5 linked regions of the Homo sapiens genome follow. The protein of the gene in region 4 interacts with the protein of the main gene of each other region in a biochemical or structural test. Each region holds a gene or a part of one and is shown on either strand. Other genes may lie near its edges. The genes, in order: SIRT1, TCF20, NFYA, TOPBP1 and SMARCAD1.

Region 1 (5,936 bases), on a different chromosome or scaffold from region 4:
CTCAGCATTCATGAGCAACTCTATACTATACCAGTATGTGCCTGTGCAGTGGAAGGAAAACAATTTTGGTAAGGATTAAAACTTTAGCTTTAAACTTCCAGCAGGTTGATATTCTAATGAATGATAAATCAAAAAAAAATTTTAAATATTCTTGTATTGACAGTGCTTTTTTTTTTAAATCACCCTACCTTGATATCTGTAATTTTAGTTTAAACTTTCCCATTTTTCTTTAAAGAAAAAAATCTGAATTTGCAGCCAACAAAAATTAGATATCCTAAGGTTGTATTACTTCTGACTTTTATTAAAATATCAACATTTCTTAGAGATGTTTATGGGCCGACTTTGTCTTTTTCTTCAAGGGGCCAAGTTCACTAATTGCTGAGTTTTATGCATATGACAGCAACCGTCCTTTTGTAGGTGTGTGTCGCATCCATCTAGATACTTTAAAATGCTCATCTATTTCATTTTTAAAATTATGTGTGTGGGATTATCAGTATTTTTTTGTTAAACATATGACATCTGTAGTTTATTTCACTAATGTAAATTTTTTCTACCATTTGCTTGATACAGGAAATATATCCTGGACAATTCCAGCCATCTCTCTGTCACAAATTCATAGCCTTGTCAGATAAGGAAGGAAAACTACTTCGCAACTATACCCAGAACATAGACACGCTGGAACAGGTTGCGGGAATCCAAAGGATAATTCAGTGTCATGGTTAGTAAACTTCAGAGTGGTTTTCTGTAATTTATTTTAGTTTTATAGGAAGATATTTCCTATAAAGCTGACTGCCATCGAGAAGTGGAGATAAAGCATTATTTAATCATGTTATCTCATTTATCGATAACCTCAGAAAAGTAGAAAACAAAAATAATAAAAACAGAAGTATTGGCCTTGACAGTTAATTATAGAAAACCTCAGATATTAATTTGCTTTTGATTTCAAAAGATGCTGCAGTTGCATGCATTCAATTATTTTAAATAATCTTTTCTGGCTGAGTGCAGTGGCTCACGCCTGTAATCCTAGCACTTTGGGAAGCCGAGGCGGGCAGATCCCATGAAGCCAAGAGTTCGAGAACAGCTTGGCCAACATGGTGAAATCCCAACTCTACTAGAAATACTAAAATTAGCCGGGCATGGTGGCAGGCGCCTGTAATCCCAGCTACTCAGGAGGCTGAGGCACGAGAATCACTTGAACCTGGGAGTTGGAGGTTGCAGCGAGCCAAGATTGCACCATTGCGCTCCAGCCTGGGAGACAGTGAGACTCTGTCAAAAAAAAAAAAAAAAAAGAAAAAGAAATTCTGAATACAAGAGTAGTATTAGCTGTTAATGAAGAAATGTGACATCTTTAGTTTATGAAACTAAAAGAACTGGATAGTTGAGATGTACAGGATTCAGAGATTCAGAAATGTTTAAAACAAGTATCAACAGGCCATTAGGTATCTAAAGTGTTTCTAAGAACTGCCGAGCTAAGGTAATAGAGTTGGAACTGTCCAACTCTGCAGGATTTTAGCCCTGGAGGAGTGAGCTGTTACAGTTTTGTTGAAAAGAGTAGCTTTAGAAGGCATCATTATATTAGTGTCTCAGAGATTGAGAATCATATTCATTCTATGTATAAATATATAAATTCTTCATCCCCTAGATTCTCCTGTAGTATATCACAAAATCTGCAGTGTGTTCTGAGGTTTAAAATCAAAGTTAAAAACAAAAACAAAAATCCTTAAACCCTCTTAACATTTGTGATGTTAAACTTTATAACGTTTGTGGTGTGTTCAAGAAACAGAAATACTTCTTTAATAAAGCATATATATGTTGTTTGTTTTTAGGTTCCTTTGCAACAGCATCTTGCCTGATTTGTAAATACAAAGTTGACTGTGAAGCTGTACGAGGAGATATTTTTAATCAGGTAATTTGTTGCCCATATTTTAGGAATTGTTCATGTCTCTGAAGTATTTCTTCTTTTGCCTCAAAATCCTTTTTTACCCCTTTAAAGTATATATGGTACAGAAAGATTCAGGAAGAAAATAGTTAGCATTTGGGAATTTTGGTAAAATACACGAGAACCTTTCAATACCTTATATAGAAAACAGCCCTATAAAGGCTCTTCAAATTATGAAATTGGCTTCTTAGTATCTAAGCCGAACATAAAATGTCAGATCATAAGCAAGTTGTTGTTGTAGTAGTTTTTCTCCTTCCTCTCCCTTTTTGTGCCTGTCAGATTTGGACCTTAAATTAGTTATGGTAATCTAAAATTATTTCATACATGTTCATTGCCAAAAAATATAGGAAAATTTGGCAGAAAATAAAAATTATCCAGAAATATGTCCTGTGTGCTTAGCAATATATGGAGGTAATCATGTCATTACGAAAGAGGAAGAATAGTATATTAAAATGGAGTCATTGGTCGGGTGCAGTGGCTCATGCTTGTAATCCCAGCACTTTGGGAGGACGAGGTGGGTCGATCATTTGAGGTCAGAAGTGAGACCAGCCTGGCCAACATGGCAAAACCCCGTCTCTCTTAAAAATACAAAAATTAGCCTGGCATGGTGGCATATGCCTTTAATCTCAGCTGCTTGGGAGGCTGAGGCAGGAGAATTATTTGAACTCGGGAGGTGGAGGTTGTAGTGAGCTGAGATCATGCCACTTCACTCCAGGCTGGGCAACAGAACAAGACTCCATCTCAAATAAATAAAATGGAATCATTTTATTTGACAAATGTCTATTTTTTTTTGAAAGGATCAATTCCCATTTAGTGTATATACACACATTATGTTTTTCCTCTTAATATATGATGGACTCTTCAATGTCAAGTGTTTTTCTACATAGATATTATAACAAGAGCATAGTATTTCATTGTTTCATAGTATGTTAATAAACTACCCATCATTGACAGTTGCTGTTTATCCATAGCTTTTCTGTTTTGTTTTTTTTTTAATAATTCTGAAATGTATTCTTAGAGGTATGGAAATGTTGACTATTTCTAACTTGGGCTTACTCTTTGCTTCTCTACCTCAACCAAAATCTGAAAATATGTAGGTAGTTCCTCGATGTCCTAGGTGCCCAGCTGATGAACCGCTTGCTATCATGAAACCAGAGATTGTGTTTTTTGGTGAAAATTTACCAGAACAGTTTCATAGAGCCATGAAGTATGACAAAGATGAAGTTGACCTCCTCATTGTTATTGGGTCTTCCCTCAAAGTAAGACCAGTAGCACTAATTCCAAGTAAGTTGGTGATGGTTTTTGGAGAACATTTCTATATATAATGTCATGGGTTGTGGGTCTGTATAATAGACGCTAGTAATCTTAACTCTGCTTCTGTTTGAAAGAGTGGTGAAGAGCTAATTTTAGAAATTGTTTGTTTGTTTGTTTATTGAGATGGAGTTTCCCTCTTGTTGCCCAGGCTGGAGTGCAGTCGCATATCTTGGCTCACTGCAACCTCCGCCTCCCGGGTTCAAGCGATTCTTCTGCCTCAGCCTTCTGAGTAGCTGGGATCACAGGCGTCCACCAACATGCCTGGCTAGTTTTTGTATTTTTAGTATAGACCGGGTTTCACCATGTTGGCCAGGCTGGTCTCGAACTCCTCAGCTCAGGTGATCCGCCTGTCTCTGCCTTCTAAAGTGCTGGGATTACAGGCATGAGCCCCCATGCCTGGCCAGAAATTCTTTATTTTTAGTAGAGATGAGGTCTTGTTGTGTTGCCCAGGCTGGATTCGAACTCCTGGGCTCAAGTGATCCTCCTGCCTCAGCCCCTTGAGTAGCTAGGATTACAGGCACGAGCCTCCACATCTGGCTGAACTGTTTTTTTAGGTGGCATTGTTCATTGAGACTGGTGAATCTGACATTTTGATGGGGGGTGGAGGGTTGTCAAAACGCAAGTAATGTTGGTGGCTCGTGCCTGTAATCTCAGCACTTTGGGAGGCCGAGGTAGGTGGATCGCTTGAGGGCAGCAGTTTGAGACCAGCCTGGCCAACATGGTGAAACCCTGTCTCTACTAAAAATACAAAAATTAGCTGGGCATAGTGGTGTGCACATGTAGTCCCAGCTACTTGGGAGGTTGGGGCATGAGAATCGCTTGAACTCAGGAGGCAGAGGTTGCAATGAGCCGAGAATGTGCCACTGCACTCCAGCCTGGGTGACAGAGTGGGACTCTGTCTCAAAAAATCAAAAACAAACCCAGAAGTAATGCTAAACTCTACTTCTAATTTATGTGAAAAATTAAGACAAAGGTAGAGTTCAACTTAGACTTTTTGGTGGAATGTGTTTTTAATGTTGCAAGGGTTAGCATCAATTAATTTATGAAATGGTCCTTTATCCTTATATTTTTTGATTACAGTTTTGATCTTTCAAATTTAATTGATTTCACATTTAATAAATTCAAATGTATAGTTTGGTAGAAGTGTAACATACCATGTAAGATGGAATTTGGGGGCTCAGAATGATTGGTTCATTCTTGTAGTAACAGCCATGCCATAACGGTGATATGTCGATATAGTTTACCCAAAAGGGTGTGTATATAAAAGTGTTCACATAAAATTTAAATCCTTATTACTCTCAGGAAAATTTCTTTGTCATATATATTCTCATACTGTCTGTTTCCTCCTCTAGTTTAGAATCAGAGGAGGAGAGAGAGAGATTTCAGTTGCATCAGATGTGTCCTTTCATAAGTGAGGGAAAGAGGAGAGGAAAAATATTAAATCCCTAGCCAGAGAATTGAATTAGACCCCACATCAGCAGTCAAGGCAGCCAGAGTAAACAGTTGGAAGAAACATGGAGTCAAGCTCTTCAATTTTGTGTCTATCCCATATCTCGTGGCTTTAGCAGTTAACTCAGTCTTACCTAATTAGCTGTGAAATTCTGTTAAAGTAGAATACAAGACAATTTGCAATTAAATGAAACATGAAAATTTAATATACAAATCTCTTTGTTCTTGAGTTGCTCTTCTTAAAGCAAAATCAAAGGCACTCTGCTTAAAAGCTTTTCTTTTTATTTTTTAGAGACGGGTGTCTTGCTGTAGCTCAGGCTAGAGTGCAGTGGTGCAGTTTCAGCTCACTGCAGCCTTCAACTCCTGGGGACAAGCAGTCCTTCCACTTCAGCTTCCTGAGTAGTTAGGACCAGAGGCGCACACCATGCTTGGCAAATTTTTAAATTTTTTTTTGTAGAAACGGGATTCACTTTGTTGCCCAGGCTGGTCACAAACTCCTGGCCTCAAGTGATCCTTCCTCCTCTGCCTCTCAAAGCATTAGGATTACAGGCATGAGCTACCATGCCTGGTCCTTAAAAACTTTTCTTTCAAAAGCTTTCTGTGGGATAGTATGATGTGTTGCAAAGATAATTAAAAAAAGAAACAGGTTTATAATAGCGTAGAATATGTTTATATGACTTTTTCCCTCCCCCCCTCCCCTCCCTCCCTCCCTTCCGTTTGTCCTTCCTTCCATTCATCCTTCCTTCTGTTAGTCCTTCCTTCTGTCCATCCTTCCCGTCCGTTCTTCCTTCCTTCCTTCGTCCATCCTTCTGTCTGTCCTTCCTTCCGTTCATCTGTCCGTCCTTCCTTCCTCCCACCCTCCCTCCCTCCCTCCTATCCTCCCTCCCTCCCTCATTGCCCAGGCTGGAGTGCAATGGCATGATCTCGGCTCACTGCAGTCTCCCGTGTTCAAGCAGTTCTCCTCCCAAGTAGTTGGGATTAGAGGCATGCGCTACCACACGCCCGGCTAATTTTGTGTTTTTAGTAGAGATGGGGTTTCACCATGTTGGTCGGGTTGGTCTTGAACTCCTGACCTCAGGTGATCCGCCTGCCTCGGCCTCCCAAAGTGCTGGGATTACAGGCGTGAGCCACTGTACCCAGCTCACCTTCTTTATATCAGGAGCTACTTAAGTAGAACATTTATGTACCAAGAACTCTTCTGTGCACTTGACTAACTCATTTAATCCTCACCACA
Region 2 (5,936 bases), on a different chromosome or scaffold from region 4:
TCAAGAAATAAATCGTAGTAAAATTTGAGTCCTTCAATTTGTCATGATTTATTCTGTAAGGTAATATATGCAATAAAATTCAAAACTGAAAATTTCACTTGATTCCTTAGAATTTGGACGAAATCCTGAAAGAAAATGAACCTTTTCTCTGGAAATTTAGTGTCAATGTCATCATGCAGTGATATAAAAAGATATACCACACAGTGTTAAGAAAAACAGGTAAATTAGATACAAGTCTCTGCTATATACTGAAAGCCATGGGAACAGGGCGCCACCGCCTAGAGAGTGAGAAATGAAGATGGGTCCCAGCAGAAGTAACAAAAAGCAAGTGCTTGCCAGAGAGAGGGGGCTGGGAGGGAGAGGAGAATGGAGAAAGGGAGTGTGGGAATGTGAGAAAGGGCAGTTGTAGCAAGCACAGAGGAAGAACAATCAGGTAGGGGTGGGGGTGAGGTACTGGAGTTAGGAGCAGAGAACAGGAGTTGAAGGGAGCCTTCACCAGGATGGGGGCCTTGCCAGGCCCTGGAAATGACCACCTTCAAGGAACATATAGTTGAGAATTTAGAGAGCATGTAGACTGGTGGCTCTATTTTACAGTTAAACTAGAGAGCCTACCTTTCTGACTTGGCTGTTTTGATGTTTTAATATGTGATTTCATTTTCATAATGTAATCAATCTATTTTATATTTTCCAAATCATGTTTTCCATCACAATTTAAAGTAAATTTAAGAAAGATGTGAGTCTGTTAGATGGGGGAAGTAAATAATTATCCATTATTTAAACTTGTATTAAAAATAAGCCCCTAAACTGGCCAGGTGCAGTGGCTCACACCTATAATCCCAGTACTTTGGGAGGCCGAGGAGGGTGGATTCCTTAAGGTCAGGAGTTCAAGGCCAGCTTGGCCAACATCCTCAAATCCCGTCTCTACTAAAAATACAAAAATTAGCTGGGTGTGGTGGCACGCACCTGTAATTCCAGCTACTGGGGAGGCTGAGACAGGAGAATCACTTGAATACAGGAGGCGGAGGTTGCCGTGAGCCGAGATCATGCCACTGCACTCCAGCCTGGACAACAGAGTGAGACCCTGTCTCAAAAAATCAAGGAAAAAAAACCCTAAATATAATCTTTAATATATTGATTCAGAAATTTAAAGAAAATTGGCCAGGCACAGTGGCTCAGGCCTGTAATCCCAGCACTTTGGGTGGCTGAGGCAGGTGGATCACTTGAGATCAGGAGTTTGAGATCAGCCTGGCCAACATGGTGAAACCCTGTCTCTATTAAAAATACAAAAATTAGCCAGGTGTGGTGGTGCATGACTGCAGTCCCAGTTACTTGGGAGGCTGAGGCAGGAGAGTCACTTGAACCCACGAGGAGGTGGTTGCAGTGAGCCAAGATTGTGCCACTGCACTCCAGCCTGGCAACAGAGCAAGACTCATCTCAAAATAAAAATAAAAATAGAAAATAAAAATTAACCTAAAACCAGTTAACATATACTGTCAGGTAAAAAAAAAAGATTAAAAGTTTCCCAAGGGGGGTTGGAAAAATTTGGGAGGGGCACCTTCTATGAGAGGGGAACAAGCAAAGACTCCCCGACTCCCCCACTAGTAGGGCTATCCAGCCTCAAGGGATCCATGGCCACCAGATCTACCTTCTGTCACATCCCTGCACGCCTTGGCATTCCTTAATGTCTCAAAGGTGATTTGTACATACCAAGTTATATCCATACCCATTCAGAGGCAATTACCTCTGTAATATCATTCATGTCAGAGGTCATTGTGATTCTCATACACAATTATACCAAGGCAAACAGTGGTCAATGTTGGACAGAAGCAAAGGGGACTTGTGCTGAAATGAATAGATTCACAAGTCCCACACTTGTGGGAAGGGAAAAAGGAAGGGAAAAAGGAAGGGAAGTAAACACCATTTTTAAATATAGAAATGTTCTAGTTTTCGGCAATTTTCAGAGTAGTGTGACACAGGGAGAGGAGCAATGTCTCTTGAGGACTTCCCAATATTTTAATATAACATCGTGCTTGTCAAAACACCTGATAAATACATAGGCCAAAATGGATCTCTAATGAAATATATGTGACTTTATCTTACATGATAGGATTAAGGGCATGCTCATTAAGCAAGACCAAAACTGAATGCATCTATCTGCTAAAACCTAGTAAGATAAAACTAGACTCAAAGTATCCTGGACAATTGAAACATCATCTGTCAAATTAAATAAAAGGCAAGTTAGTGTAATTTTAATTTGTCCTTGAGTGCACTGAGAAAAGTAGAATAAAAGCTAGGTAAATAAAAGCTAGAAACGGATCTTATAGTGATAGTGGTACATCAGCTCAAAGAGACAACAAGCCTAACTTTTTTCTTATTTTTTTTAGAGATTGAATCCCACTCAGTCGCCCAGGCTAGAGTGCAGTGGCACCATCTTGGCTCACTGCAACCTCCGTCTCCTAGGCTCAAGCCATTCTCCTGCCTCAGCCTCCCGAGTAGCTGGGATTACAGGTGCCTGTCACCATGTCCAGCTAATTTTTGCATATTTTTAGTAGACACGGGGTTTGACCATGTTGGCCAGGCTGGTCTTGAACTCCTGACCTCAGGCGATCTGCCCACCTCGGCCTCCCAAAGTGCTGGGACTACAGGCGTGAGCCATCATGCTCGGCCCAAGACCTGAATTGAGACACAGGATCTAGAGATTTGCTGGGGAAGATTTAGCCTGATTACTGATTATCAATTATTGCTATAGAACACCTAAAAGTTTACACAAAAAAACTGGGCTGAGATATGTTAATAATAAATGTTGAAATAACGAAAACACTGTCAGATGGTCACATACACATATGCACATCAAAAAGCAATAAACAGGCTGGGCGCAGTGACCCACACCTGTAATCCCAACACTCTAGGAGGTCAAGGCAGATGGATGATCTGAGGTCAGGAGTTCCAGACCAGCCTGGCCAACATGGTGAAACCCCACAACAAAGTGAGATTCTGTCTCAAAAAACAAACAACAAAAAACCCACCAAATACTGTGACTTTCCAAGGAAAGTTGGGAAGCAAGAACTCAACTTTGACAAGAGGATGATTAACGGATTATTTTGAGCGCTCAAATTTGACTAAAGAATTTTGTACTTGAGGGTCTTAAATGTTACATCCTCCTAGGATCTTTGCATTTTAAAATGTCATTGTGTATAAACTTCTTAGGGGAAGTGAATCTTCTACCTCAAACTTGGAGTTTCACCGTGATGTTAATAATGGAGACAGGGAAGGAGGCACAAAGAAAAGACCGTAATTGGGAGATAGGGGACATGATAAGAGTAAAGGGCAAGCTCCTTGCATGACTGAATTAAAATGTTCTAATTTCAAATATATATTTCACATTCAATATAATTTTTACTATAGTCTATGGGCACTTCTTTTTGCCAGAAGGTTATAAATAATATGGTAGACTACTAAACATACAGTTGTACATCCATCTGATCCCTTCCCACGAAAAAGTGGATAAACTTGCAAGATAAACTCATGACACCATGAGCAATGGGAAGCTGGAAACATGAGAGATGAAGTGAGTGACAGTGATTCTGTGCACTGCAAGGAAGCAGACAGTAATGATGAGTGCAGTGGAGGAGCCCCCAGAAAGCCAGCCACTTTAGGGCACAGAGCTTGGGGAGGCCTCAGTAAGTGGGGGTGCAACATGGGGCTGAAAAATAGAGCATTAGCCCAAAGTTTCTAAGAGGAGTTAGATCCTTAACCCAGTTCAACCAGGTAACTGTTCTCATCCACTGAAAACAGGCGGGAGATTGTCAAAGTCCGCGCACTGAATCATGAGCCCATATCCCCACCCACACAACCCTACCATCCTCTTCTCCACTTGGCTTTTAGGACGCTGGCAGCCAAGCTTGCATCTCTAGACAGGAAATCTCAAGATTTTTCTCTGGAACAAAAAAAAAAATGTTTTTTTTTCCTCTGGGAAAACTCAACTCAGAAAAAAGACCCATATGCTGGCTGGCTGCCTTATTATTCTACGGAGAGGACTACAGGCTAGCAAGCCTGGCCCATACTGTAACAGAGAGCTTCAAGTCATTTTTTAAAACATCTCTTTCTCTCTTAAAAATATAAATCAAGGCTGGGTGCAGTGGCTCAAGCCTGTAATCCCAGCACTTTGGGAGGCCGAGGTGGGCGGATCACCTGAGGTCAGGAGCTCGAGACCAGACTGACCAACGTGGAGAAACCTCATGTCTTCTAAAAATACAAAATTAGCTGTGCATGGTGGCGCATGCCTCTAATCCCAGCTACTCAGGAGGCTGAGGCAAGAGAATCGCTTGAACCTGGGAAGCGGAGGTTGCGGTGAGCTGAGATTGCGCCATTGCACTCCAGCCTGGGCAACAAGAGCGAAACCCCATCTCAATAAAGAAAAAAAAATCAAGACATCTGAAGAACCTCTAACAAGAAAGAGAAAATAGGAAACAGACAAAGATTTTTAAAAATTATAGTACAGGCCAAGTGTAGTGGCTCACGCCTGTAATTCCAGCACTTTGGAAGGCTGACGTGGGAGGATTGCTTAAGCTCAGGTGGTGAGACCAGCCTGCCTGGGCAACAAAGTGAGATGCTGTCTCTACAAAAAGTAAAAAACTTAGCCAGGTGTACTGGCATGCACCTGTGGTCCAGCTACTTGGGAGGATCCCTTGAGCCCAGTGGTTGGAGGCTGCAGTGAGCCATCATCACATCACTGCACTCCAGCCTGGGTAAGGGCATGAAACTGAAACAAAAACAAAAACAAAAAATACGTTATAATGTATTCAAAAAGCAAGAGAAACGATTATAGCCATCAACTAGGCTCTGATTATTCTTTAAAAGTCAGTACATTCAGAGAAAAAAAAAGCTCTTCAAAATATCAAGAAAAAAAATAAGTAAATAAAAGGCTAGAAGGCTGGGCACTGTGGCTTGTGGCACATGCCTATAATCCTGGTACTTTAGAAGACCGAAGTGGAAGGATTGCTTGAGTCCAGCAGTTTGAGACCACTCTGGGCAACACAGTGAGACCTTGTTTCTGCAAAAAATATAAATATTAGCTGGGCATGGTGGCACACACCTTTAGTCCCAGGTACCAGGGAGCCCCAGAGTTCGAGAATGCAGTAAGCTGTGATCGCACCACTGCATTCCAGCCTGAGTGACAACAAAACAAAACAAAACAAAACAAAACCAAAACAAAACCCACATACAAAAAAGATTAGATGATAAAGCTGAAGAAAGCATAGAGAAATCAGAACAAAAAGATAATGAGATAAAACATAAAACAGAGGAGAAAAGATAAAAACAGCGGATCAATCCAGGAGGTAAAATGCCTTATATTAACAGGAATTATAAAGAGAGCAGAGAAAATAGAGGGAAGGAAATTTTCAAAGAACTACCACATGACAAATTGCCTGAACTGAAAGACATCAGCGTACATAAGATCTCATAGAGTAGCCAACACAACCATGAAATGACCTAGTCAAGACCTATCATTTTGACATCTCAAGACCCTAGGGAAAAGGAGAAGATCCTCAAACTTTCCAGAAGAAAAACAGAACATGCATCAAGGGATGAAAAATTAGAATGGCAGTCTTCTCAACTGCAGCACTGGAAGCTAGTGGACAAACCAGGAAGAACGACTGCAAGACAGTGAGAGAAAAATCACTTCCAATCTAGAATTCCACACCTAGCCAACTCTCAATTAAGCATGAGGCTAGGATAAAGTCATGCTCAGATATATAGGATCTCAACATTTTTACACTCCCACACACCCTTTCTCACAAAACTACTAAAGGATGATGCACGCCCTTAAATGAAGGCTCACTTTAAGAATGAGGAAGAAATGGGATTCAGGAAACAGAACATTCAATAGAGGAGAGAAAGAAATGAAGATGATGATGTTGATGATCTGCCCCAGG
Region 3 (5,936 bases), on a different chromosome or scaffold from region 4:
AAGGCTTATCACCACCGCACTTTTGACTGGCCTTGAAGAATGATGGTAATTCTTCCACAGGAAAGATGGAAGAGCTTGCTCGAAGAGAAGAAAAGCATGTGCAGAGGAATCAAATTACACTGTTGGAGGCAGGAAGATGGGATAGGGAAGTGGGCAGTAGTTGTGATAGTTTAGGGGGGAAAGCCCAGTTGGTAAAATACTTGTATATCTTGCTAAGGAATATTTTGGAAACAGTTATTATTTTGTATGGAGGTTCAAGTAGAAGGGATCTAGAGCTATATTTTTTCCTAAGATTGAAAAAACGAGTTTCTGACTTGTTTATGGGTTCTGCCCCGTGATAGTGGCTGAGTTCTTTGGGGATGAAGAGGAGACTTGTCCTAGGACTCTGAAAATTATTTTTACTCATGTGAATCATCTAGTGCATTCCCTGGCACATAAAGGTCTTAAGTATCTGGTGCCCATTTCTAAATTCACATTTAATGTTATACAACTAATAGGTTTCAGAAAACTCGTATTCCAGTGCTCTTTCATTACTAAAACTTCGGGGACAGGTTTTATTTTCACTTTTTAGGGTGAGTTTTTCATTGTTGCTTAAGTGATTTTCTTAATTCATTTGATTGTCACGTTATCCGCATTAGCAGATGAGATGATAGAGCTTAAGTAGTCTAAAAAACATGTATATTTGCCTTTGGAACGTTTTTTTGTTTGTTTTTGGATACAGGGCTTTCCTCTGTCATCCAGGCTGGAGTACAGTGGCGCAATCGTAGCTCACTAACCTGGAACTCCTGGGCTCAAGCCATCCTCCCTTCTTGTTCTCCCAAAACGTTGGGATTACAGGCATGAGCCACTGCGTCCTGACCTGAAATAGATGTTTTAACCTTAGTATTTAAAAATAGGTATGTTCTGGTCACTTCAAAATCACTAAATACTTTTGCTTGGCATCTTTCTAAAAGGCATTATAATCTGGTAACTTTTTTGCTAAATACCTTACAAGCTTCCACCAGTCTGCAGAAGAATTTCTTTGTCTGACATTTTGAGAGAAAGTAGTGTGGCCCCAAGCTTTTTTTCCTGTTTAGTCCACTGTTCACATGCTGAAATATTTCTGTTCTTGTTTTTATGCTCTCTTGATTTGTAGTACTTCACCTTCCTCCACATCATCACATAGCTAAATCTTTCTCACACTTAAGACCAGTTCATCCTGCAGGCCTCTGATAGCAAAGAAAAAAAAAGTTCAAGTAGTACCTTTTTTTTTTTAAGCCTTGTTGATTTATCCCCAGCTGGAACAAATCTCTGTCCTCCAAATTCCCATATCACTTTATCTCTTAGGATTCCAGTATAGGTTTTTAGTCCATTACTAAACTTAAAGACTCTTTGAAGTTTGAATCTTCGTCAGAGATTTCTTTTTATTTTTAAAACCTTCAGAACAGTGTCTGGCACATGGTACATAATTAGTGGAGAGAAGTGCATTAGAAAGCTCCAATCCAGAAATCTGTAGGATGATGGGGAAGCTGGACAGCCCTTTGTTGTAGTCTAGTCTTTCATCAAGCGTCTATCAGGACCCACTTGTTGAGTTGTGAAAGAAATTGAGTGAGCCAATGCTGGGAATTTTTAAATAATAGAATAGAAAATATCTGCCAGGCATGATGATGGCTCACGACTGTAATCCCAGCACTTTGGGAAGCCGAAGTGGGAGAATCCTTTGAGCTCAGGAGTTTGAGACCAGCCTGGGTAGCATAGGGAGACCCCCTCTCTTAAAAGAAAAAAAAGAATAGAAAATACCAAAGTGCATCTTGTGTTGTATAAAGGTAAATGCTGTTTCATGAAACTTTCATTTCAGTTACATGCTTTATACATGTGTGCACTGAGTTGTGATAATGAAATGTGTTTCTTACTAAGGGTTGTGGTCAAAAAAGTTAAAAAGCTACTGTTCTAGGCTTTGCCTGGTAGTGATTATCAACTGTGATAATCCTATGGCTTTTCATATGCTTACACTAGTTGAGTTTCTGAAGAGGTTTTAGCTTTGGAGTTTGTGTAGGTCCACATAGAATGGGTTCCTAGTAAGTGGTTGGCTAAGTCTCAGCTTTTGCACCTTGGAATAGTGGGGCAAAGAGAATTGCACTGAGAAGAGAATGCACTAGGAAGAGAATTTTCATGCTAGCCAGAATAAACACTTATTATTTGTTTCTCTCTCTTTGAGGAAAAACCATTCAAAACTTTGTGTTAAGAGCAAGAGCTAGACAGACTAAATCTGGCTTAGTTTGTCATAATCTTGGGCAAAGAGGCACTTTGGGAAAGACTATCGAATTGTATTGCAGTCTTGCTAACTGAAGCTCACAGTAGTAGGAACATATGACTTTACTGAAGCCAGTTGCTTATAGCATTAACCATTAACAGTATCAATATCATGATACAGGCTAAATCACTCTGTCATTAATGTGAGAGAGAATTGCTGCTAGATTTGAAGCTGCTCTTCAAATCTTGATACTCTTCAAAGTATAAATTTAAATATTGCTAAATTGGTTCATTTGTATTACCAGAATAAACTAGTTAAGAAGAAAATCTGTACGTTACATATATTAGTCATTATGTGCTTCAAGTTATATTTAGTCTTGTAAAGATGTAAACTTCTGGATATTAGTCAAGGAAAAAATCTCATATAAGAAGGAAATTTGGAGTTGGGGAGGCGTTGAAACCTAAAAGACATTCCTTTCATGATCCTTATTTTTTAAAATCAATTTATTGAGAGATACTTTAGAAACAAAGTATAATAATTTTAAATGTGTATTTTGATGAGTTTTGACAAATTTGTACACCTGTGCAACTGCTACCACAATGAAGATATAAAACATTTTCATCACCCTACAATGTTCCTAAGGCTCCATGCCAGTCAACCTCCCTCTTTCCTGTCTCCCTGTATTCTCCACTCCCAAGGAACCACTGATCCATTTTCTGTCTCTAGATTACTGATGTCTTTTGGAGATTTTATATAAATGGAATCATATATATTCGTTTACATCATAACCTTAATTTTATTAGTTTATAGCCATAAATGTATTGTGTATTAGAGACAAGATAGAATTTAGGGAAGCCTGTTAGTGCCCCTAACAGACTCACAGTCTGGCTGAAAACCTGATTTTCTATTCTATACCCAGAATCTCTGAGGAGCAGACTTAGTCAACCAATTCCAAAGAGACTGGTGTAAAAATCAGAAAACCGGTTTGTCATGTTGCTGATTATATTTGCTCCCTGTTGGCCAATCTATATGTAAATCCAAATTATAGCTAGAAATTTACCTAGCGAGCATTCCATTAGATCAAGGGCAGTGCTTTGGAGAACCATATGGCCACAAGTCCTCTTGCTGTGATGACATAGCCTGTTATTTATGGCTCATAGATTCTTATGTTGTATCCATTTTGGTTATGAGTAATGGGGTTGATTAATTTTTATTTTGATTAAATTTTGTTATATTTTTCCTAACATTCCAACATTCATTTGGGAAATAAGAATTTCTCAAAATTCTTATTCTAGAAATAAGAATTTTCAAGTGTGCAGTGAAATCAAAGGAATTTGAAAATAAACACCTGTATACCTGCCAGTTAGGGTCTATTAACATCTTACTATAATTGCCTTACCAGATATTTCTCCACCCATTCATCCATTTTTTGATGCATTTCAAAGTAAATTTTAGATATCAATACACTTCTTTCTAAGTACTTGGACATATAGTTGCACATATTTTGGTTTCTTCTTTCACACTGTATTGAGACACCTTGCAAATGATTAATTCCACCAGCATGTGTGGATTTATGGAGAGTGGTACTGTACTTTGCCACGATAATGAGCAGCTCAGTTAGGTCACGTCATTTTATTATTCAGATGTTGGAATTTATGAGGGCCTAGTGAAAAATCAGAGAGAAAGACCTATCTACATTTTTGTTTATATATCTGTCCTCCCTCCCATATTTCCAAGATGAATTGCCGATTGCTAACTTATATCATTTTAATTTTTTAATGAAGTCTTTATTAAAGGTTCTCAGATATCATTCAGTTTATCTAATTGTATCCTTATTTTTAAAAGTGGATCTTCAACTCTTAAAGTCTATGAGAAGGGTAAATTTTGCCTACCATATGTAGTGGACCTGAGTAACATGTTTGGTGGGAAGCAATTACGTGTTACAACTTAAAGAAGCTTTATTCTCTAAAGTATATGTGCAAACCTGAAAATCAGTGTTAGGTATGCCTTGTATCAAAGTGATGTAGCTTAACGAGTATCTCTTAGGTGCAAGTATTGCTCTGACAGTATTGAAAGGTAAGGTTGCCAGTATACTGAAAGCATTTTAGAAACGTGAAAATAGCATTATGTTGTTATGATTGTGCCATGTAATCCCAGTTAAAAATGATACTGAATATAAGCATTTCCTATTCTCCTATCCTGTTTTCTTGCAAATAAAGTACAGTGATAAATTATCCAGGTTAATTGTCTGGTAAGGCCTTTATTGACAATCTCACTTTAGTTTCTTTCCCCACCTTTCTAACAGGAGTGTACCTCACAGCCTTCTAGGATCTCCAGAGTGGACAGGAATCTCACTTGGAGGGACCATGGAGCAGTATACAGCAAACAGCAATAGTTCGACAGAGCAGATTGTTGTCCAGGCAGGACAGATTCAGCAGCAGGTATGGAAGCAAAACTGCTTTAAACATTACAGCAATGAAACTGATAACAGCACCACTCAATTGGTTGGTCTATTGCCCTGGGGAATTATTTGAAAGATACCAGATCTTGTGAGATATTGGGTCTGATGGCTTGTGCTGAAATGCCATGTCTAGCCCATGACCACTTAGAATCTACTCTTCATGGGTGCCTGGTTATAGTAAATTGCCTCTTTTATCTCATTTTAAGTAAAAACATCTAGTCTGGTTTTCAGATGGAAATTTGGACTTTAAAATTTTTCTGGATTCTATTTGGTCTTTTTCTCTTCTTGTTTGAGCTAACTTGTGATTTAGTAAGTCTTTGGCCACAACAGACAAACCAACATAGCTTCCAATAAATCTTCTGTTTTTTGATTTGGTCTGCCACATTTTTTATTCAGAAAAGCTCTGGTTTAACATTAGGATAATATTTAGACAGCCATTCTTATGGATAAGACATACTAGAAAGGAATTCCCTGCTGCTGGTTTATTCCTAATTAATAGATTGCTTTCTTGAATTTATACACAGGTTACATTTTCTGATGCTTTATGCTTGGGTTTATTATAGTAAAATTTCACTTTTTTCCCCACCCCAGAAGAAAAAAATGTATTATGTTTCTATTTGACCTTAGGCCAAGATTGATATTTTGGAAATACTTTGTTTTCAAAATGGAATTTAGCTAATATAGAAAAGTAGTAGGGAAGGGAAAGGTAGTATTGATGATGAGTTTTTCCCGTCTAATGATCAAAGACGAACTCCCCTGATAGCTTTCCCTTCCATACAGCTGCTGTGGCTCTGGCAGTTTCCTTCAACTGCCTTTTTAGAGGAAGGGATTCCACAAAGGGCCCTCCATTCACACCAGTGCCCTGGAGGGTGGGTTTTTATTCTTTCAGAATTTGCCATTAGTGGATGTAAAAATAAGGTTGAATCATTGAAAACATGGCTCTTAAAGCAGTCCAGTTGGGTAGAAATAATCTTAGTTTTGAAGCTGGGCATGGTGCTGCATGCCTGTAATCCCAGCTACTCTGGAGGCTGAGACAGGAAGGTTGGCTTAAGCCCAGGAATTCAAGACCAGCCTGGGCAAAACAGCAAGACCCCATCTCAAAATAAGTACATAAATAAAGTTTAAAAAAAAAAGAATCTTAGTTTTGGGACATGAGAGCATTGACGTCATGAAGATGATTTCGGTTCATAGTGATTAATTACTCCTCCTTTCTTGGTGATTGCATTTAAGCCCAGAATTTTT
Region 4 (5,640 bases):
GAGCAAGACTCCGTTTCAAAATAAATAAATAAATAAATAAATAAATAAGTTTATTCCTGATATTGTCAACTTGTGTTCATTTATAACTGGCTTATTTAGGAGTCTGTTGTTTAGTTCCTAAATATAAGAGGATTTTTTTTTCTATCTTTTTAATTTGTGATTGCCCATTGAATTCCATTGTAATCACAGAAAATACTCTATAATTTTAATTCTTTTAAAGTTATTGAGACTTGTTTTATCACCCAGCTTCATCTATCTTAATGAACATATCATATATGTGAAAGATTTTATATTCTGCAGCTGTTGGGTGTTGTGTTCTAAAAATATCAAATAGGTTAATATGGTTGATAATGTTGATCAGATTTTCTGTGTATGTGGGTTTTTTTGTTTGTTTAGTTATATCAATTACTGATACTAAAATCTCCAGCTGTTTGTGGAATTGTCTGTTTTTTCTCTTTAATTTTGTCAGCTTTTACCCCATTTATTTCAAACTTTGTTGCTAGTTGTTTACCCATATATAATTTCTTTGATTTTCACATATTGATCCTTTGTTATAACACGTATCTCTGGGCTTACTCCGCCTTGAATGTACATTATCTGAGGTTAATATAGCCTTTTCCTGTTTACTCTGTGTCATGATATCTCTTTGCATGGTTTTTAATTTTAAACTTGTCTGTGTCATATATTTAAAATGGCTTTCTTGTAGATAGGATATAGTTGGGCCTTGCTTTTTTTTTCTTTGGAGTGTTTAGTCCATCATGTAATTATTGATATGATTGGATTTAGGGATGGGGTTTTTTGCTGTTTGTTTTCTATTTGTTCTTTGTCCTTGTTCTTCTTTGTCTTTCTTGGCTTTTTTTGTATTAGTTTAATATTTTTAGAATTTTATTTTATCCATTGGCCTTCTAAAGCAAAAATATATTTACCTTTTGGAGGGAGAAGTGTTTATATGTAGATTACAAATTACTTCCTGAGGCCGGGCATGGTGGCTCACGCCTGTAATCCCAGCACTTTGGGAGGCCAAGGTGGGCAGATCACCTGAGGTCAGGATTTCGAGACCAGCCTGGCCAATATGGTGAAACCGTGTCTCTACTAAAAATACAAAAATTAGCTGGGTGTCGTGGCGCACACCTGTAATCCCAGCTGCTTGGGAGGCTGAGGCAGGAGAATCACTTGAACCTGTGAGGCGGAGGCTGCAGTGAGCCAAGATCGTGCCTCTGCACTCCAGCCTAGGTGACAAGAGCGAAACTCTGTCTCAAAAAAAAAAAAAAAAAAAATGAAAAAAGGTAGATCTCTTGCATCCAAGTTGGTTCATTTGCTTCCCCTGTCCTTTATACCAGGGGTCAGTAAACTATAGCCACCTGGCCAAACCTGGCCCACTGCCTATTTTATAAATAAAGGTTTGTTGGAAAACAGCCATACTCATTCATTTATGTATTTTCTATGGCTGCTTTTGCACTATAATGGCAGAGTTAAGTAGTTTCAGCACAAATCATCTATCCCACAAAATCTAAAATGTTTCTGTCTGAGCCTTTACAGAAAGTGTGCTGACCTCTGCTTTATGCAGTAGTTGTCATATATTTTACATCTACATCTTATAGCCCCAAATAAGATTTTACTTTAAATAGGTTTTGCTTTTAACAATTCTGTGCATTTTGAGGAAACTAAAATAAAAAATGGTATTTTATAATTACCCTCATGTATACCAGTTTGAGTGTCAGTTTTCCCTGAAGATCTGAGTTTCCATCTGATAACATTTTCCTTCAGCCTGAAGAACTAACTTTAGTTTGGAGTGCAGGTTGATTGGGGATCAATTCTAGCTTTCTGTTGTATGAAATGTCTATTCTACCTTCATTGTTGAAGGACAGTTTTGCAGGATACAGAATTATAGATTGACAGGTTTTTTTCTTCTATTAAAGACTTCACTGTCTGCTGGCCTCCATTGTTTCTGTTGAGAAATCAGTGATGGTCATTTGAATTGTTCCCTTGTATTCAATGTGTCATTTTTGAGACCAGCCACCAGCCTGGGCAACACAGCAAGACCCTTATCTCCCCCTAAAAAAGAAACTCTAGGTTCTATTGTTCCTTTGCTCCTCCAAAGAGTACTGTGTTGTTTAACAGGCAGTTTACTTCATACACTGTGTTTGCGTCCCCAGCCCCCCATTTGCTTGGTTCGTTTATTCTCCAGGCTCTATGGTTGCTTTTAATATATTTTGGTCAGAATTTGTAGCTGTTATCCATGGAAGAATTGAATCAAAAGGCACTTACTTGGTATTTTGTGGTGATTCATTTTCAGGTTGCCCAGTCTGCCATATTGCTAGAAAATTAAGTTTTATTACACTTATAATAAGGAGGAAAAGATCCATTTCTATGTTGGGAAATGGTTGTGGGGGGAAAATGCAAGGGTTTTGGAGTCAGATCAGTTATGAAATTTGGCTTTGCTACCTGCTAGTTATGTGACATTGGTTGTTTTCATTTAACCTTTTTTATTTTATCTCAAAAATGGGGATTAAAAACACCGATATGAAATGTTTGTAAGATCTGAGCTAGTCCCACTCTACCTGAACCATACACGTATTTCTTTGATAAAAGGTGAGACTTTGTCCCACAGGGTCCATTTTGTTTAATTTGCTGGAACCTAGGAATGAATATGCGTTTTCCTTTAAGTTTGTCAGATTCATCCCTGAGAGGTCTGAGATTTAAAGAAAAAATCTATTACCAGATCACGTAAATGTTTGAAATCATTTTAAAAAATCACTTATTTTTCCTTTTATAGGAATCACCTCCTCATGTAGAAAATTACTGTCTACCAGAAGCTATTTCATTTATTCAGAATAATAAGGAACTTGGGACTGGATTATCACAAAAGAGGAAAGCTCCTACAGAAAAAAATAAAATCAAACGACCTAGAGTACACTAATCGCATCTACCCTTTAGTTACCAAACATTAAATGTTTTTAAAAATTGAAAGCCTGAATGTGACTGTGATAGATTTGGGTAGTAATTTAAAGATGAGTACCTGAAGAATTCTGCTTCAGAGTATAATGATGACCCTTCTTGAGTTTTGAACACCTGAAATTGTAATCACTGAAATATTAACTGTTTCTTAATAAAAAGTTACCTGAAATAACAACAAAATACAACTCCTCAGCTAGCTTGCTGTTAAACCACATTGAAGTCTGTTAAAAGATATTTATTTTTCTTGTAAATATCTGAAGCTGTAGCTTAGTGGAAATTTTAGCAAGGTAATGGATTTTGCTTTAAAATGTCTGCCTTACAAATTCATAACAACAAGATTTGTCAGTCAGCATTTATTCATGTTTTCCCTGATTTTTATCTTCTCACCATTTTACCTCTTTTAACAGGAGCCTGAGCACAAGGTTTAATGAGGAAGCTGGGGCTATAAATATGTGTGTATATATGTATATGTATGTTTGTACAAATCTCCATGATGTTTGCCAAGTTTGAATGCGCAAAACTTGGAAAATGTGACAATAAAGAATAAAAGTAGTAACTCAAATTAGTATTAAGATGTGTTTACATAGATAAATTTTTTAAAAGAGCACCCTGGCATCTGTTCTTCTGTTGAAGCAACAAAACATTTATGTAACGTAAAAAATGAATTGCAGGGGCCTGGGTGCGGTGGCTCGTGCCTGTAATCCCAGCACTTTGGGAGGCTGAGGCAGGCGGATCGTCTGAGGTCGGGAGTTTGAGACCAGCCTGACCAACATGGAGAAACCTCATCTGTACTAAAAATACAAAAAATTAGCCCAGTGTGGTGGCACATGCCTGTAATCCCAGCTACTCAGGAGGCTGAGGCAGGAGAATCGCTTGAACCCGGGAGGCGGAGGTTGCGGTGAGCTGAGATCGCGCCATTGCACTCCAGCCTGGGCAACAAGAGCGAAACTCCATCTCAAAAAAAAAAAAAAAAAGAATTGCAGGCCAGGCACGGTGGCTCATGCTTGTAATCCCACCACTTTGGGAGGCCAAGGTGGGTGGACTGCTTGAACCCAGAAGTTCAAGACCAGCCTGGACAACATGGCGAAACCCCATCTCTGCAAAAAATAGCAAAAAATTAGCCGGGCATGCTGTTTGATGCTTGTAGTCCCAGCTACTTGGGAGGCTGAGGCATGAGAATTACTTGAACTCAGGAGGCAGAGGTTGCAGTGAGCTGAAATCATGCCACTGCAACTCCAGCCTGGGTGACAGAATGAGACCCTGTCTCAAAAAAAATAAATGAATTGCTTAACATTTCTGATATTTGTTATTTAGAATATTGCCCTATTAGATTAAAACATACTGTTATTGGAACTCTGTATTGCATTAGCCTTTATTATGCTAAACCTAAACACCTAATACTACATGCGTTACCAGAATTCTCTATAAATACACCTAATTTCATTTTAAGGACAAACTAGAATCCGTTAGGAATGTAATTTTGATGTAAACCGTTCAATTCCAAATGACTTTTTGAAAGGCAGATTCAAACAGTGAAGGAGAGAGTGCTCAACTTGGACACAAAATCCCTTAAATTTTCATCAGATTTTCTTCAAAATGGAGTTGAGGGTATCCCTGCTGCTAGAGGATTGGTCCTACAGGGTTTTCAGCTTTGAGCTAGTTCACAGCTTAGGACAATACAAATTCTACACAGAGAAATAGGTAGCATTATGATGTAAACTGTCCCCCTCCCACCAAACAAAAACCACATGGGCCTGTCTTTATCAGAGCTATTTTATTTTAGCTGAATCATTTTGTAGATTGTAGTACGTTTCCCTGAATTTTATTACTCAGAATCCTTTGAAATAGGCCAGGCACAGTGGCTCACACTTGTAATCCCAGCACTTTGGGAGGCCAAGGTGGGCAGATTACTTTAGGTCAGGAGTTCGAGACCAGCCTGGCCAACATGACGAAACTCCATCTCTACTAAAAATACCAAAATTAGCCAGGTGTGCCGGCACGTGCCTGTAATCCCAGCTACATGGGAGGCTGAGGCAGGAGAATCACTTGAACCAGGAGGTGGAGGTTGCAGTGAGCCGAGATCGCACCACTGCACTCTAGCCTGGGTGACAGAGTGAGACTCCATCTCAAAAAAAAAAAAAAAAAAAATTCTTTGAAATAGTTACTTTTTAAATTACCTAATATACCACTTTCTTTTCTGCCAAAATTATGAATGGTTTTCCAGTTCAAACTTAGACACACAGTTTACCATTTAAGGCTCCAGGTCTCAGTTTCTCCTCCTAACTTTCCAGCATCTGCCCATACTCTGTATAAGCCACTTGAACTCTGGCTTTGGCTGTTAATCTGTAAATGTCCTAATGCCAGCAACAATATCCTCTTATATACAAATAATTCCAAGCATAGGTAGTCTTCTTGTTTAAAAAGGGGAGGGGGCAGAACTTGCCTTGATTAGATTAGTATGAGTTTCTTTTCTGAATGGCTACGATATTTTAATCTGTGATATTTAAATTATCACCTTATATCCCTCCACGAATTTTCCTGTGCATTAGTCTGATCTCACCAACATTCGTTAATTCAACAGGTAGGAATCCTCAACCTGTGCCTAGGATTCAGCAACAAACCACCTGGAACACATGGTCCCTTAGCACTTGAAGAGGTAGGAATCCTTACTGTAAATACAGT
Region 5 (5,936 bases), on a different chromosome or scaffold from region 4:
TATTGAGGTGAAATTCACATAGCATAAAATTAACCATTTTAGAGTGAACTATTTAATGCTATTTAGTACATTCACAGTGTTGTATACCATCATTCCTGTCTAGTTCCAAACGCTGTCATCACCTCGTAATAGCATGCTATACCCATTAAGCAGTTTCTCCCCATTCCCTCCTCCCCCTAACCCCTGGCAACCGCCAATCTGCCTTCAGTCTCTGGATTTACCTATTCTGAACATTTCATTTAGGTGGAATTATATAATATGTAACCTTTTATGTCTAGCCTCTTATTTTTTAATTTCAGAAAAATGTGTTTTATTTGTTTTTTCTTTTTTCAACTTTATGTTAGAATTGGGGTACATGTGCAAGTTTGTTACAAACGTATATTGCGTGATGCTGAAGTTTGAAGTATGAATGAATCTGTCACCCAGATAGTAAGGATAGTACTCCATAGGTAGTTTTCCTTAACTCTTCCCCCACATCCTCCCTCCGCCTTCTTGTGTTCCCCAGTGTCTGTTGTTCTCATTTTTATGAACACGTGTACCCAATGTTTAGCTCCCATTTATAAGTGGGAAATGTGGTATTTGATTTTTCTGATTCCACATTAGCTTGCTTAGGAAATGGTTTCCAGCTACATCTGTGTTGCTGCGAAGAACATGATTTTGTTCTTTTTTATTAGCCTCTTACATAGCATAATGCTTTCAGATATACTACAATGTTCATTCATGTTGTGGTGTGTATCAGTACTTCATTCTTTTTTATGACTTAGTGATATTCCATTTTATGTGTTTACCACAATTTGTCCATGACGCACATTTGATATATTAACAAATGAACAACTGAAGTTTAGTTTTCACTTATGTAGTGAAAAAGCAGTGGTCTAGAGTTAGATACTTGGATCTGTTCCCTCCTCAGCTGGTTGTTGTCCATCTGTGAGCTTTAAAATACTGTTCTTGGAATTTCAGTGTGCCTGGGCTGTAAAGGTGGCAGTATGAATTTTGAAGATTTTGAAATGGTTTCTCCAGATGGGTTTCACCAGTATGTCTTATTATTCCCCTGCTCAAAATCCTGTTGCTTCTTAAAAAAGACTAACCTTAGGCTTTATTCCATGTTAGCTCTGGTTTAATTCTTCATCCTTGTAACCTATTAACATTCTCTGCATTTGAGCCCAAGTAGACCACTTAGTATTATGAAACACATGCAATTTTCTTCTTTAGTCCAGATATCCATAGCATTTTATTGGTCTCTGTTTTATGAAATTTTATTTTACTCCATTGTGCAGAGGAGGTATCAGAATTTAGTTATTTCTATCTAAGGTACTGAAAGAGAAAAATAGCAATTCAGTTGTTGGATAATAAAGGAGGTTGAAGAAGAAGATTGTATTTTTCTCCATCTTGTGTGTATAGCATGTGGTGCAGTTCTAAGCAGAGTAGAAAAATGCTTTTTGATTGACTAAAATTTTTCCTATGCATGAACACAAGGAGTCTTTTCTTTTTGCTTAAATGTGGACTTTAACCAGTTTCTTCAAGTGAAGTTAAGTGACAGAGAAGAAGGAAAAGTGAGACTATGTATAGCCACAATTCTCATATTAATTAATCTGTTCGGTTTATACATTATTTAGTTCCACTTAAATTCCTTTTATCATTGTTTCAGTTTTATGTTGTGACTGAACAATTAATATTTAAGCCATTCTGTGAATCAAGAGTGAAGTAAAAGTAAACTCTTCTCAGAATTTGAAATTTATAGGTGGATATATAATAGTGAACATAGATGAGATATTTGTATCCTTTTAAAATTTACCGTTGTCTTGGAGAAGGCATCAGTATACTTGAATTATATTGAGTTAATTTGAGGATCATTCTAGTTTTTTAGGAGATTTATCTCATTTTAAGCACTGAGAATAAAGTTTGAGTTACCGGATATGCAATCAGGGTCTTTCAGTGATCTTAAGTCAGCAATATTTTTCATCCTTAAAGACATAAATATGTCAATGTTCACAGAAACAAAAAGAAACAGTTTGGATTCTTCTGACTGATGATGATAATTTTCAGATCAAGTCAAAATACAATGATAATTGCCTTAAGACCATTGTTATTGATATCTCTTAAATTGTTTTCTTTTTTTTTTCTCCCCATTAGGGAGAGGAATCAAATGAGTCTGCAGAATCTAGCAGTAATTGGGAAAAGCAGGAAAGTATTGTACTGAAATTGCAAAAGGAATTTCCCAATTTTGATAAACAGGTGAGTAGTCGTGTATGAAAATTTAATCAGTGTGTACTAAGTGTTTTTATTATAAAATAGTGTTAAGAGTTCAACCACATAAAAGCTTAGGGTGAGTTTTGTATTCTTCTAATTAAATGTTCTCCTTTTATCAATGTTATAAAGTATTTTCATACTGTTTATTTATGTTGTTTATTTACCTTGTTTACTATAGTATCTATACTGTATCCCTAAGTCATTAAAAAATAACCGTAATAAAAATTGTGAACTCATTTATAACATGTAAGTCATCTAGAAAGTCATCTGTAACCCTGCCCCCATCAAGTAACTGCTTAGTTTTTTTCATGTTCTCATTCTTGAAATTTCTTACAAGAATTTAAAAAGTATTCCATTTCAGTGTCTTAATATTTTATAAGCTTTCTACTACTTCCCAGATAGTGAGAATGTTTTCAGAGTCATTAAAAAAAAAGACTCATGCCACGCATCCTGTTGCTAAAAGGCCCTCTGTTTAATCCCATGATCATATATAGAAGCACATATTTGTTTAGCATTTAGAGTACATTTACACTTGCACTGATTTATTTGAGTATATATGTTCAGATAGTACATCTACTAAATTCTGATGAGCTGAATGCAAAATCTTGTTGCAATATTGGTTCTTTACCTTTGTTGAAACTACGTTTTGAAGTTAGCAGTTTGTAAAAGCCTAGCTGCATATTGAAATTTCATTTTTAATTGAGAAAACATTTCTTGATCCTCTAGTGTTCACAGTACTTCATAGTGAGCATTAGAAATGCAAAAAAATGTCAAGTTTTCTTTCCTTTGAAGACTATTGTGTATTTGTGGAGGTGAAATTACACAGAAAGCATTTGTAAAGCAGTGTAAAAACAAGTGCAAAATAATCAGATGTGAATTCTCTGTTTTCAGGTGATTAACTTATTTTTAAAAGAGCATAGACGTTTTCTGCAAGTTGCTAATTTGAGATTTTTAACAAAAAGATAAATGACTTATTTCTAGGAACTTAGAGAAGTACTCAAGGAACATGAATGGATGTACACAGAAGCTTTAGAATCTCTAAAAGTGTTTGCAGAAGACCAAGGTAATTATTCTGGGTCATAGAAAATACATACTTCTCATTATAGTCTGTATTTTAGTATATAAGAAAATGGTATATAAGAAAAGCTATTAGCTGTTAATCAGAGGGTGGGATTGCAAAAGATGTTGAAAGTAATGATGTAAAAACATTCTTTAACAACCAGTTTTTAAATGTTTTGACCTGCCTGTTCTTTATCATAGTGTAAAACAAAACAATAAATATCTTTTTCTATTTGTTCAGTCTTTCTTAATAGTTAAGGCTACTTTTAAATTGCCATGTTTTATTGAGTGTAAAATAACCTTTTTAACAACTGTCAGGATGGATCTTGTGATTGGTGATATCATGTCATTACTGTAATGTAGATGTCTTAGCCTATACTTGCACAGATATCAAAAGCACTAGCATCAAAAACTTAAGGGTATCATAGGCATGAACACATTTTGGAACACTCTTAATTCTAGGAACCAAATGATAGAGGAGAGGTGGTAAGGAAGAGTTGAGTCATACATGTTTAGTAACATACCTAAGGAAGAATCAAGTAGACTAGCTCTTCATAATTGCAAACCCAGCATGGTAGCTTTTGGTGTTTTGGTTTGGGTTTTTTTGTTTGTTTGTTTTTAATAAATTGTTTTAAAAGGCTATACTACCAATACTGTTGATGGCACAGAAAATGATATTCTGTGGCAAAAAGAAAGCCACCAAATATGAGTTTGAAAAATGAGTCAGAAGAGCCATGTTATGAATGTGAAAACATTTGAGGAATACTTTAGCCAATTCATTTTGCTTATTTTTTATAAATGCACAAAAATAAAGGTATGATAATCTGTGTAAGTCTAATAGCTTTCTGAGTAAGTAAAAATTTCTGAATAAAGTATTGTATTATAGATTGGTGCATGTTTTCTCACTGGTACATAAAATAATGGTGTTACCTTCATTCACAGGCATCTTAGAATTCTGTAAACTGATAATCAGTGATAAAGTAGTGGGGCTTTTTGATAATACTGTATTTGAATAATTTTTTTTATTTTTTATTTTTTTTGAGACGGAGTCTTGCTCTGTCGCCCAGGCTGGAGTGCAGTGGCACAGTCTCGGCTAACTGCAACCTCCACCTCCCAGGTTCAAGCGATTCTCCTGCCTCAGCCTTCTGAGTAGCTGGGATTACAGGCATGCACCACCATGCCTGGCTAATTTTTATATTTTTAGTAGAGACAGGGTTTCACCATGTTGGTCAGGCTGGTCTCGAACTCCTGACCTTGTGATCTGCCCGCGTCGGCCTCCCAAAGTGCTGGGATTACAGGCGTGAGCCACCATGCCCAGCCTATTTGAATAATTTTTTAAGTAACGATGCAACTTAGAATATTGAAGATAGTATTGGAAAATTATGGATAGTTGAAACATACACACTTTTTATTAGTAAGCTTTATAGTAGTGTAAGCATCATTCTGCTATATTCTTCAGTGTTGGCATAGTTGAGTGGGGCTGCTAGGAATATCTGAGACATCATACAGATACGCAGCTGCCATTTGTGTTCTCAGGACCTTTGTTAGAAAACAGAGATTTATATTTAATTCATTTTAAAAACAAGTTATCACCTGCTTTTGAAACAATTGTTTAACTTCAAATTCTACTTAAGTATTTTTAAAGTGTATCAAATTTAACAATAAATTGTCGTTGAATTCTTCTGTATTCAATAGGAATAGGTAAATGTTTTAAGTTTTTATTTGAAGTCTATCTTTATATTTATGTATTTCTAATTTAGTTACTGTTTTTGTCTTTTATATACAGATATGCAATATGTATCACAAAGTGAGGTTCCAAATGGAAAAGAAGTTTCTTCAAGAAGTCAAAATTACCCTAAAAATGCAACTAAAACAAAACTAAAACAGAAATTTTCAATGAAAGCACAAAATGGCTTTAACAAGAAACGTAAAAAAAATGTTTTTAATCCAAAGAGAGTTGTTGAAGACTCTGAATATGATTCAGGTTCTGATGTCGGTAGTTCACTAGATGAGGACTATAGTAGTGGTGAAGAAGTGATGGAGGATGGCTATAAAGGTAAAATTCTTCACTTCCTTCAAGATGCTTCAATTGGTGAACTTACTTTGATTCCTCAGTGTTCTCAGAAAAAGGCTCAGAAGATAACAGAACTCCGGCCCTTTAATAGTTGGGAGGCTCTGGTAAGGCTTTATTCTTTTTTTCCCCTTGTATGTGTGTGTGTATTTAATTCACAGTACCGGTTATAGTCAAGTTGTCTTCAGCCCAGGTAAGCATAGATGGGTGGCCTTATCCTGTGTAAAGTCAAACATTACTTTCATTGTAAGCCAATAGTATTTCAAATAGTGTCATATGACCTAATTTTGAATGAATTAAGGGGTGATTTTCCTGAAAAAACCCAAGCTGATTGGCTGGGAATACTGTCACTCATTCCTTTGCATAGAAACTTCGTTCATTTCACTGCAGAAGAAGAAATTAGAGCTTACATTTAGGAAGGAGTTGTTTGCTAGCCTGTTCTGATCTGTTACTGCTGAGACACCATGCAGAAAGCAAGAATGTGGCAGAAATTTTACTACAACTACTTGAAGAGCAATAGCAACGGCCAGGGGAGCTCCATGATTCAAAATGCCAG

Evidence for each region.
Region 1: of the proteins of TOPBP1 (region 4) and SIRT1, one has a biochemical effect on the other in vitro, tested with the Homo sapiens proteins (one study listed by BioGRID).
Region 2: the proteins of TOPBP1 (region 4) and TCF20 form a complex in vitro, tested with the Homo sapiens proteins (one study listed by BioGRID).
Region 3: the proteins of TOPBP1 (region 4) and NFYA form a complex in vitro, tested with the Homo sapiens proteins (one study listed by BioGRID).
Region 5: the proteins of TOPBP1 (region 4) and SMARCAD1 form a complex in vitro, tested with the Homo sapiens proteins (one study listed by BioGRID).

What each region holds. Positions count from the first base shown.
Region 1 is NC_000010.11:67,906,220-67,912,155, forward strand, and holds part of SIRT1 (NAD-dependent protein deacetylase sirtuin-1), read left to right. Parts: exon of another isoform or gene 1-35; coding exon of another isoform or gene 36-68; intron 69-570; coding exon 571-718; intron 719-1,826; coding exon 1,827-1,906; intron 1,907-3,036; coding exon 3,037-3,223; intron 3,224-5,936. UniProt on the Homo sapiens protein: NAD-dependent protein deacetylase that links transcriptional regulation directly to intracellular energetics and participates in the coordination of several separated cellular functions such as cell cycle, response to DNA damage, metabolism, apoptosis and autophagy.
Region 2 is NC_000022.11:42,203,407-42,209,342, forward strand, and holds part of TCF20 (transcription factor 20), read right to left. Parts: intron 1-5,936. UniProt on the Homo sapiens protein: Transcriptional activator that binds to the regulatory region of MMP3 and thereby controls stromelysin expression. It stimulates the activity of various transcriptional activators such as JUN, SP1, PAX6 and ETS1, suggesting a function as a coactivator.
Region 3 is NC_000006.12:41,074,491-41,080,426, forward strand, and holds part of NFYA (nuclear transcription factor Y subunit alpha), read left to right. Parts: intron 1-776; exon of another isoform or gene 777-859; intron 860-986; exon of another isoform or gene 987-1,208; intron 1,209-4,538; 5' UTR 4,539-4,599; coding exon 4,600-4,674; intron 4,675-5,936. UniProt on the Homo sapiens protein: Component of the sequence-specific heterotrimeric transcription factor (NF-Y) which specifically recognizes a 5'-CCAAT-3' box motif found in the promoters of its target genes.
Region 4 is NC_000003.12:133,598,530-133,604,169, reverse strand, and holds the end of TOPBP1 (DNA topoisomerase 2-binding protein 1), read left to right. Parts: intron 1-2,776; coding exon 2,777-2,920; 3' UTR 2,921-3,932; downstream 3,933-5,640. UniProt on the Homo sapiens protein: Scaffold protein that acts as a key protein-protein adapter in DNA replication and DNA repair. Composed of multiple BRCT domains, which specifically recognize and bind phosphorylated proteins, bringing proteins together into functional combinations.
Region 5 is NC_000004.12:94,247,521-94,253,456, forward strand, and holds part of SMARCAD1 (SWI/SNF-related matrix-associated actin-dependent regulator of chromatin subfamily A containing DEAD/H box 1), read left to right. Parts: exon of another isoform or gene 1-1,033; intron 1,034-2,133; coding exon 2,134-2,235; intron 2,236-3,141; exon of another isoform or gene 3,142-3,231; coding exon 3,232-3,313; intron 3,314-5,095; coding exon 5,096-5,487; intron 5,488-5,788; exon of another isoform or gene 5,789-5,936. UniProt on the Homo sapiens protein: DNA helicase that possesses intrinsic ATP-dependent nucleosome-remodeling activity and is both required for DNA repair and heterochromatin organization.